Regions from separate parts of the Homo sapiens genome. Here region 1 is linked to region 2. A link means that fine-mapping ties the variant in region 2 to the expression of a gene that starts in the linked region. Tissue or cell type: whole blood. Region 2 holds a variant in brackets; the other region holds the start of a gene. All regions are shown on one strand. Distances are between the middles of the regions.

Region 1 (5,000 bases), 48 kb after region 2:
TGACATATGCATATCGAACAAACATGCATGTTATATACCATCCATGTTCACCTTGGGGTGGAGACTTAATATTTAAATATATCGCAGTTAGGCCCCATACGTCAAAAAGACAAAAGCACTCAAGTGCGCAGCCTCTGTAAGCTGGCTAGAACCAGTCCATGGCCGATGGTCTTATCAGGAGAAAGTTACTGAGATCAGTCTCTTGTCCCACCAAAGCTATAATTATGGCTTGTGGAACAGGGGCGTAGGGGTCAGCATCTGGCAGTGGGTGAGCTGCAAATTTTTTTCTATTATTTATATTACCACATTATACAAATTGTTTTAATATTGGTTATCTCAAGTCCTGTACTTGTTTAGCTGCTACAGAAAAAGAAAATCCTCGCGGCAGTTAGAGCATAGTCTCTTCTTTAAGTGCAGAGGTGCAAGACTTAACCCTTGCCTGGCATGGCCTTAGATCCTATTTATAATTAGGTATCTTATTGACACAAACAATGCATTCTGTCAGTCTTGTGATCTCTGCTTTGACGTTAATGCTGGTCATTTGTTGTGTCTAAGCTGCAAAAGGGCGTGGGCATAACATGGCATGTTTGACGTCCCTTCCCATCATAGCTGGAAACCCTGTTTTTAAGGTTCCCTGGGGTCCCCTTGGCCAAAAGGGGGTCCATTTAGTTGGTTGGGGGGTGTAGGATTTTATTTTTAGTTTACAGTTGTTAGCCCTGATGTGGACCATTTCCATCCTATCTAGGTTTACCAAGATTCAAAACACGAAGCTGACCATGAAGCGGGACGGCATTGGGTCAGTGCGGTACCAGGTCTTGGAGGTGTCTCGGCAACCACTCTTCACCAATATCACAGTGGACATTGGGCGGCCTCCGTCGTGGCCCCCTCGGGGCTGACACTAATGGACAGAGGCTCTCGGTGCCGAAGATTGCCTGCCAGAGGACTGACCACAGCCTGGCTGGCAGCTGCTCTGTGGAGGACCTCCAGGACTGAGACTGGGCTCTGTTTTCCAAGGGTCTTCACTAGGCCCCCTAGCTACACCTGGAAGTTTCAGAACCCACTTTGGGGGGCCTCCTGCCTGGGCAGGCTCTTCAAGTGTGGCCCTCTTTGGAGTCAACCCTCCTTCCCGACCCCCTCCCCCTAGCCCAGCCCCAGTCACTGTCAGGGTCGGGCCAGCCCCTGCACTGCCTCGCAGAGTGGCCTGGGCTAGGTCACTCCACCTCTCTGTGCCTCAGTTTCCCCCCCTTGAGTCCCCTAGGGCCTGGAAGGGTGGGAGGTATGTCTAGGGGGCAGTGTCTCTTCCAGGGGGAATTCTCAGCTCTTGGGAACCCCCTTGCTCCCAGGGGAGGGGAAACCTTTTTCATTCAACATTGTAGGGGGCAAGCTTTGGTGCGCCCCCTGCTGAGGAGCAGCCCCAGGAGGGGACCAGAGGGGATGCTGTGTCGCTGCCTGGGATCTTGGGGTTGGCCTTTGCATGGGAGGCAGGTGGGGCTTGGATCAGTAAGTCTGGTTCCCGCCTCCCTGTCTGAGAGAGGAGGCAGGAGCCCCAGGGCCGGCTTGTGTTTGTACATTGCACAGAAACTTGTGTGGGTGCTTTAGTAAAAAACGTGAATGGAGCAGCTCCCTTGTCTGTTTGGGGGTGGGGGTCGGGTCCCTGAACGTGGTTACCCTGAGTGTGTTGTGGTGGAAGGGCACTTGGGGAACCTGGCCCAACAAGTAAACCTGACCCGGGCCATCCTGGTTCTCCAAGCGCTGCCACTCCCTAGGCTTTCACTGGCCTTAAGGGGAAGTTTGTCCTTGCACTGCTTCCGGGACAGTGGAGGCGACGAAGTAATAAACCCGTGGACCCAGATTTCTCAGGTCTTAACACGTTCCCTGAGGCCTAAAGGTGCCCAGGGCCGAGCCCAAAGTGCTTGGGTCAGGGCTCGGTGGAGCGCCGAGGTGAGTCTGAACTCCCAGCCGGCACGCGCCGCCCGCCGGACCAAACACGGGAGGGGGCGGGGCCCTAGAGTCGCGGCGTGGTTTCCCGGGTGATGGCCACGCGGAAGAGGTGGGGCTAGGGCCCTGGTTCCCACTGCCTGGTTTCTGGGCCCCCGGCATCCGAGTCGGCCAAAAGCCGGGCAGAAGAGAGCGCCAAGGACTGGCAGTTCCGGAACGGGCAATCCCAGCCGAGGGGACCAGCGGCAGAGCACGGGTGGGGCTTGGGAGAGGGCGGGGCCCATAGAGGGGCGGGGTTTGGTGAGCGTTGCCGGCGGGCCCGCGGTACCTCCCGCACTCTGACCTGCGGCCCGTAGGTCCGAGCCGGGGACGGCGGCGTCGGTGGGTCATGCTCCGGCACTCCCCCTCGCTGTGGGAGCTGGTGGAGGAGCACGTTCCGCTCCGGGAGCGACGCGAAGTGAAGAGGATTCTGGGGGAGGCGGCGGTGGACCTGAGCCTGGAGCTGCGGGCGGAGGTGGGGAGAGGGAAGGTGGGCCACGCCCCTGGCCTGCCCCACGACTCGGGTGATTTCCCACCTCTGCGGGTCCCTGGCCCTGCCGGGTAACTCCCGAGATCCTATCCTGGTCTCCCCTTTGACTCCGCCCTCTCCCTCACTCCCCCAGCCCCCACCATTCCGGACACTCCCCTCCCCAGTCGCAAGGTATCCCAGCTCTCCTTGCAGGTGGCGATGTTACGGGCACTGCTCCAAGAGGCTCGATCCTCTCAAGCCCCCAGCTCCCGCCCCATCTCTGACCCCTCTTCTCTTCTGGCACCACCGCCTCTCCTAAAGGACCTCTTGCGCCAGGAGCTCCGGCAGTTGCTCCAGGGTCTCCGCCACAAAGCCATCTGTGAGGGCAGGTGGGAGCCTCAGGCCTGGGCCCTTTCCCTAGATACCAGGTGGGCTAGCGCTGCCCCTAACAAGGAGCCAGGGTTGCCTTTTCTGTGGTTTCCAGAAAGGAGCCTCTCAGCTTCCTTCCTGTGCACCTTCTGCAGGGACCAGGCCCAAGCTTGGGTCCAGTATAGCCCCAGGGTCCTGCACTTTGCCTTGGAGGAGCCCAGGTGTGATTTGCCAGAACAGGAGATATTCCAGATGAGAGGTGGTGGGCCCAGGTAAGGTGATGGTAGGAGAGAGGGATCTGTCCCTGCTTGGCAGAGGGCCCTAGCCCACTGGTGGGTTGCACCTGGCTCCATGCAGGAGATTCCAGTCACGGGCTGGGCACTTCCACCGCCACTTGTGATAGAGATTATCAGCCCATGAGGGCTACTGAAACCCAGAGGAAACACCTGCCTAGCCTGGGGACAGGCAAAGCTTCCTGGAGAAAGTGGTTTGATCTGCGTGTTGTAGTATGAGGAGCAGTTTTCAGGGAGATGAAAGAGAAGAGCTTTGTAGGAAGAGGGAAGAAAGGAAGCCATGTCCAGCAGGCGGTTGTTCCTCTGGCCTAGAGAACAGGAGTGAGGGCTGGGCTAGGGAGGCAGGGAGAGCTGAAGAGGATGGTCACAAATGGTATTTACAGCTGGGACTGAATGAGATAAAATATTCATAAGTGGATGGCAGCAACTTCTTATTCTAATCCTCACACAGCCTGAGGAGGTGGGCAAAATCTCCATTTTGCACAAGAGGAAATTAAAGGCCGGGCATAGTGGCTCATGCCTGTAATCCCAGCACTTTGGGAGGCTGAGGCGGGAGGATGGCTTGAGGCCAGGAGTTTGAGATCAGCCTGGGCAATACAGGGAGACCCCATCTTTACAAAAAGTGAAAAAAAAAATAGTCAGGTGAGGTGGCGCATGCCTGTATTCCCAGCTACTTGGGAGGCTGAGGTGGGATAATTGCTTGAGCTCAGGAATTCGGGGCTGCAGTGAGCTATGATTGCACCTGTGCACTCCAACCTGGGTGACAAAGACCCTGTCTCTAAGAAAAAAAAAAAAGAAGCCTGGGCAACATAGTGAGACCCCATCTGTGCAAAAAAATTGAACAGGCGTGGTGGCACGCACCTGTAGTCCCAGCTACTCAGGAGGCTGATGTGGGAAGAGCACTTGAGCCCGGGATGTCAAGGCTGCAGTGAGCCAAGATGGTGCTACTGCACTCCAGCCTGGGCAACAGAGCACAATCTTGTCTCAAAAAAAAAAAAAAAAAAGGAAAAGAAACTAAAGCTCAGAAGCGATAAGTGATTTGCCTGAAGTCACACACAATGAAGGGTGGCAGAGCTCATTTGCAAACCTAGGCTCCCAAACTCTTACTCTTTGCACTATATTATATTGCCTTTGTGAGAAAAGAAACAGTTGCCTAGAAGTGATATTTGGGTCCTGAAGGCCTGGGGTGAGCAACATGCGGAGAGTGATAGTGACTTCATTGCCAGCAGCGGTCACAGAGATCTCAGCATCATCAAGGACCAACTGAACGTGTCCAACATTGACCAGGTGGCCAGACACCTGAGGTGAGGCCCAGGGGCACCTGCATGTGTATAGGCAGGGGTGGAGACAAGGATGGATCTTGAGGTGCTGGGATTGTGAGACAGGAGGTGGGTAGTATACTTGGCGGGGAGGCCCATGTGCGTAAGGCTGAGAGGTGGAAAGAGCTGGCTGCTATAGAGCTAGTGAGGTTGCTTTCAGGAAGCAGCCAAGTACAGATGCCACGGCCGAGCATGATGGTGCATGCCTATAATCCCAGCAATTTGGGAGGCCGAGGCAAGAGGGTCATTTGGGCCCAGGAATTCGAAACCAGCTTGGCCAACATGGGAAAACCCCATCTCTACCAAAACAAATACAAAAATTAGCTGGGCGTGGTGGTGCACGCCTGTACCAGTTACTTGGGAGGCTGAGGTGAGAAGGGATTGATTGAGCCCTGGAAGGTAAGGCTACAGTGAGTCATGATGGGTGGCAGAGCAAGACCCTGTTTCTTTCTTTCTTTCTTTCTTTTTTTTTTTTTTTTGAGATGGAGTCTTGTTCTGGCGCCCAGGCTGGAGTGCAGTGGCGTGATCTTGGCTCACTGCAAGCTCCACCTCCCGGGTTCACACCATTCTCCT
Region 2 (5,652 bases):
TGGTGTGAACCTGGGAGGCAGAGCTTGCAGTGAGCTGAGATCGTGCCACTGCACTCCAGCCTAGGCGACAGAGTGAGACTCCATCTCAAAAAAAAAAAAATTGTTGTTTATCTCATATTCAAAATTAAATAGATGGCCAGGTGCGGTGGCTCATGCCTGTAATCCCAGCACTTTGGGAGGCCGAGGTGGGCGGATCACGAGGTCAAGAGTTTGAGACCAGCCTGGCCAATATGGTGAAACCCTGTCTCTACTAAAAATACAAAATTAGCCGGGGATGGTGGTGCACACCTGTAGTCCCAGTTACTCAGGAGGCAGAAGAATTGCTTGAACCTGGGAGGCAGAGGTTGCAGTGAGCCGTGACACTGAACTCTAGCCTGGGTGACAGAGCAAGACTCCATCTCAAAAAAAAAAAAAATAAATAAGTGTCCTGATTTTTTTCTGGCAACCCTAGGTAGGGGTAAACAAGTACCCCAGTAGAAGTATGACTGAGGTTATAGGTATGTGTGTCAAGGAGGGGGCAGATTCTACAATCACAAAGGAAGAGGAATCAGTTTTTTCCTGGATAGACGCAGAAGAGGAAAAGTCTTTGTGGAAAAGGTGGTATTTGAACTGAGTCTTGAAAAATGAGTTTGTTTGCACAGGGTGGATTATAGGGTGGATGAGAGGCATGGAACCCGAACTGGTTATTGCTGATTGCCTTTATTTCCTCTCACTTCTAAATGTACACTGTTCATTGTGGCCATGTCCTGTCCTGCACGGTGTGGTTCTCAGCCCTGGACAGGAATGGAGTGGAGAGGTGAGGGCCTCTTCCTTGGGCTCTCCATCTCAGCCTGAAGACTCTGCTAGTCCTATATTCTTTAGATTTTTATTTGTTTATTTATTTATTTATTTACTTCTTACTAGCCAGTTCATCACAGCTTCAATTCCCTGTTACACTTCAAAATGCTTATGTTGAACTTTCCCTGCCTGCTGACTGTGTGATGTCTCTCTCCTGATGGCATCCAGAATGACACAGAGCCTTCTCAACAGAGGAAGTAGCATGAACAAAGACAGGGAAGTGTGAAACAGCCTGGTGCGCTCCCAGGATTGCCAGCAACTTCAGGTGGACTTGGGGAGGGTCCTCATCAAGACAAAAGACTGGAGAGGTCACAAAGGGCTTTGAATGTTATACCGAGAAGCTCAGCCTTCGCTCTGAAAGGAGCCACTAAAGGGTTTTAAGTGGGCTTGGTTAGAGATGTGTTTCAGATGGATCACTTGCTACTGTGTCTAGTATGGATGGAAGAGGCAAGGTGGGTGCCAGCTAGAGCTGCCATAGTTAGAGCCGTTCAGGCAACAAGCACAGGTACCTTGAGTTAGGGCAGAAGCAAATGTGCAAGGACAGAAGAGATGTGAGGGACAATAAGAGAGGTGAGGGCTGGATGAGAGATGGTTTCCAGGTGTCTAGCTTGGGGGACTGGTACAGAACACAGGGGATGTAGTATTTTAGCATGTGATAGGGGTAAGATGTGGGGAAAATGTGAGTTCAGTTTTGTACATGTTCAACTTTGGGTGCCTGTGGCAACTTCAGAGGGCCAGGAGGCAGCTAAATATGCAGGTTTGAAACCCAGGACAGTCTGGGCTGGAGAAATCCAAGGAGTCACAGCTTGAAGCCAGGGGAGTGGTGAGATAATGAGGCATAAGACAAGAAGCGGAGACTAAGGAGGACCAACATTTAAGGAACAGGTGGAGGAACAGGGATGGGCCAGTGAAGGAAACCAAAAAGGAGTAGTCAGAGTGTCGGGAAAAACAAAACCAAACAGAAGAGCTGAGGGACTGGTCAATAGGGCCAGATGCAGCACAAAAATCAAGCTGCATCAGAACCGAAAACTGCCCGTTAGGTTTTCTTGCAACATGGTGGCCTAAGGACTTGGGCTAAACTTCCTCCTGAAAACAACTTTAAATACTAGACTCTATCTATCTTTAAAATTAAATGCATCCATAAGCTAGCAAAAATGTAAGAAACACACTGAGGCCAAAAAAGTAAATGAAAGCAAGAAGCTACAAAGGTAAGCAAAGCTCTGTCATTGGCTTTCATCTTGAGGGCAGTTGCCGAACCCAGAGAACCTGATCATTGGTTTTCAAGGGGTCTCTGGGCTTATGAGAAAGACAAAGCCCAGGGCCCCCTCACCATGGGGAGTCTATTTAGAAACTTCTCCATAAGGCCAGGACCTCAAAGGCCAGTGTATGCCTACACTGTGAAGGTGAATTAGAAAGAAACCTGCCCCTGTCTGACCTAACCTCTCTCCCTCAAACCAGGGGACTACAAAGAAAACTGCCTACATCCAACCTTGGTACTAAGAAAGGGGAATAATCTCCCCCTGAGAATTCTTTTTTTTCTTCTTCTTCTTTTTTTTTTTTTTTTGAGACAGAGTCTCGCTCTGTTGCCCAGGCTGGAGTGCAATGGCGCGATCTCAGCTCACTGCAACCTCCACCTTCCAGGTCCAAGAGATTCTCCTGCCTCAGCTTCCCAAGTAGCCGGGACTACAGGTGCCCGCCACCACACCAGGCTAACTTTTGTATTTTTAGTAGAGACAGGGTTTCACCGTGTTAGCCAGGCTGGTCTCGAACTCCTGACCTCGTGATCCACCCACCTCAGCCTCCCAAAGTGCTGGTGGC[A/G]TGAGCCACTGCGCCCGGCCTCCCGCTGAGAATTCTTAACTGCAAGCAGGCAGTCGTCTGGTTTTGCAGACCAAATTCACATGATTTTGGTAGGCTGAAAAACTTCAAAGTGATCATTTAATTTGACATGAACATGGATTGGTAGTGGTTCCAGGTGACCAACAAAAGCTCCCTCTCCTCCTCTGCTGAGTTTTGGGATGTTCCCTCCTGAATCTGCAGACCTCTCCCAGGGTTGCCACAGGTTCTTGCCCCTATAGGTCTACACTTGTTCCTTAGAGAAGAAAGAGCCCTTCTGGCTCCCAAAGACTTATCTGCCACTTGGCTCTGAGCTATCCTGCACTAACATCCAAATCTCCTGGAGATCACCTTTGGTCTGGCCTCCGGAAATGCCCCCAACTCTCCCCAGGGCCTACTTCAGTCCATCTGTCCTAAATAGTGTTTGCAAAGGATGTTCAGGAGTCATTGCTGTGAGACTGGGCTTCTTTCTCTGCCAGATCCCTGGAACCTCCAGGGATGAGGAGGAGCCCTGGATGGGAAGCAGGAAGAAAACACATACTGACTAAGTTGTGGTCTCTGGGCTGAGCCCCCCACCCCTAAAACCCCTTAACTAAAATGAGTTTCAGAAGAAGCTAAGGTCTCATTGCTAGAAAGAGGCATAAACAGGTTTTGAACTCAGGACTAAGTCCAGAATTTGTGCATTTAAACCCCACTCCCAACACCATCTCCCCTGCCCACCACCACCTCCACCAGTGAAACCGCCAGCCAGCACCAGGCCCAAGGTATTTCACACCCTAGGCACAGGCCTGGAATCAGTTACTTTATTTTGGCTTTCTATTTCCTCCTTCCAAATGTCTCCTGCCTCTCTTTCTTCCTTCAATTTGTCTTTCATGTTGCAGATTTTTCTAAAATGCAAATGTAATCATCATTGCTCACTTGAAACCCCATCATGGTTTCATATTGCACTTAGGATAATGTCCAAACTCCTACAAGAATCTATTGCCACCAACTTGTCTTTCCAACCTCATCTCTGTTACTCATACCCTTCCCCTTCCCCACCCCACATATATTCTCTTAAAATGAATATAAATTACTTACTATTCTTTCTTTTCTTTTCTTTTTTTTTTTTAGACGGAGTCTCACTCTGTCGCCCAGGCTGGAGTGCAGTGGCGTGATCTCAGCTCACTGCAAGCTCCACCTCCCGTGTTCAAGCCATTCTCCTGCCTCAGCCTCCCGAATAGCTGGGACTACAGGTGCCTGCCACCATGCCCGGCTAATTTTTTGTATTTTTAGTAGAGACGGGGTTTCACCGTGTTAGCCAGGATGGTCTCGATCTCCTGACCTCGTGATCCGCCCGCCTCAGCCTCCCATAGTGCTGGGATTACAGGCGTGAGCCACCGCGCCCGGCCTACTTGCTATTCTTTATTGATGAAGACTTGCTGAATGACTTAGAGTCCTACTGGATTTTGCTTACCAGCTAAATGGGCCCCTCTCCTTCCCAGGCTCTCTATTCTTCAAGCTCAGATCAAGTTTCTCTTCTCAGGGAAGCCTTCATGGACCTTCTCAGGCCTCAGCAGCTGCTGCCAATGCCAGCTTCCAATGCCAGCTTCCTCCATTTGAACAAAACTACGGAGCTCTTTGCACTTTTAATTTTTTCCTCTTCCCTGCTAGGGTAGCTGGCAGGAGTTAATAAACAATAAAATACAACTGGAGGGGTGACAGGCAGGAACTACCGGGGCCTGTGGCAGACCAGATCTATGGCATGGTCTGCCACCCTGTCTGTGTGCCAGGGGCAAGATAAGCCTAACTTTCCCCAAGCTCGATTTCCTCATCTCATCTGAAAATGATGAATAAAAATATCCACCTCAGAGCTATTAAGAAAACTGAACCTAAGGTAAGCAAAGTCCTGCTCCTAGCACTTAAATGTAAGCTACTCTTACTCTAGTTACACATAAAGTTACTTCCAAAAACCTTACGAAATTCCCCGAGCACTGTCCATGGTATGTGGTTTCCCGGTTGCTTATTGGGTGGTCCCGAGAGCCTTCCTTTTTTCCTTCCTGAGGCGTGCCAAGTCCCCTCTCCTCTTCTCTGGGTGGTGCTGACGCCTTCTTCCCAGGCTGCACCTTTGCTGGGCCGGAGGATGCCCCCGGCAGCGGAGCGCCAGAGTGACCAGGCAACCTCCCCAGCCTCCACCCTCTAGCCCGGGCTCCCACCTCCGTCCTCCGGCCCCTCGAGTCACGTCGTCCTACTAAGGAGTTGGGCCGCAGCGCCCCGCGCCGGTCTGACCCGGAATGCCTGCTCGCCGCGGTAGGCCGAGGACAGGCGGGGCTCTGCAGGTCCCCAACCCACGTGCTCCCGGCCTCCTCCGCAGGGCGCCGCCTTCCGGCTAGGCGCAACACGGACTACATTTCCCAGGGTGAACAGCGGCGGGGCCTAGACTCGGCCGCGGCCTGGGGCGGCGAGCCGCTCCACCGCCTGCTCAGGGGAGTGCGAGCTGGCGCGAGGACAGGGCTAAGGACCCGGAATGAGTTTCCGCGCAGTTCCGCTGGGCCGTGCCGGCCTGTACCGGGCCGTGCCGAGCCAGAACTGGCAGGAGTGGGGGCCTGAGTTGGAGGTGCCGGGGACAGGCGCTCGGGGCAGCCCGCGCCTTGCCGAGGTCCCTGCCCCGTCCCGGCCGGCCTGGCTTGTCTTGTCAGTCACTGGGGCGGAGGCAGCGGCTGTAGCGGGGCTGTAGCCGGGCGTTGAGCACAGCGCGGGCCAGGCCGAACGGAAGGGACCTGCCACAGCCCCTCAACTCCACGGACTCTTCGCCCTAGACTAGCGGAGCTGCATCTCCGCGCTTCGTTGGACGCCTCCGTAACCACGAAGGGCTCTCTCTCTCCCGTGACCCTCCAGCCCCATGACCTGTTCATAGCAGCCGAGAGCTCACCCAGGCGGGGGTGTTGTGGGTACAGGCCATCGACCCTGTGACCCCTCAAGAGCCAGGGACTCGGTTTCCCC

Evidence for each region. PIP is the estimated chance that this variant, and not a neighbour inherited with it, causes the effect.
Region 1: CCDC24 starts here. The variant in region 2 is fine-mapped to the expression of CCDC24 in whole blood (INTERVAL, PIP above 0.99).

Annotation. Positions count from the first base shown.
Region 1 is chr1:43,989,553-43,994,552 of GRCh38, forward strand. It overlaps CCDC24 (coiled-coil domain containing 24), which reads left to right and starts at 2,047. Exons shown (of 9, transcript NM_152499.4): 1 at 2,047-2,194; 2 at 2,295-2,452; 3 at 2,660-2,835; 4 at 2,971-3,087; 5 at 4,335-4,412. The coding sequence starts at 2,327. It overlaps B4GALT2 (beta-1,4-galactosyltransferase 2), which reads left to right. Exons shown (of 7, transcript NM_003780.5): 7 at 746-1,616. The coding sequence ends at 896. RefSeq lists silencers at 2,201-2,310, 2,451-2,500.
Region 2 is chr1:43,941,616-43,947,267 of GRCh38, forward strand. It overlaps LOC101929609 (a long non-coding RNA gene), which reads right to left and starts at 4,984. Exons shown (of 2, transcript NR_188535.1): 1 at 4,866-4,984; 2 at 2,740-3,181. It overlaps IPO13 (importin 13), which reads left to right and starts at 5,335. Exons shown (of 20, transcript NM_014652.4): 1 at 5,335-5,652. RefSeq lists a silencer at 5,131-5,380. The variant A/G (reference allele first, on the strand shown) is at 2,656.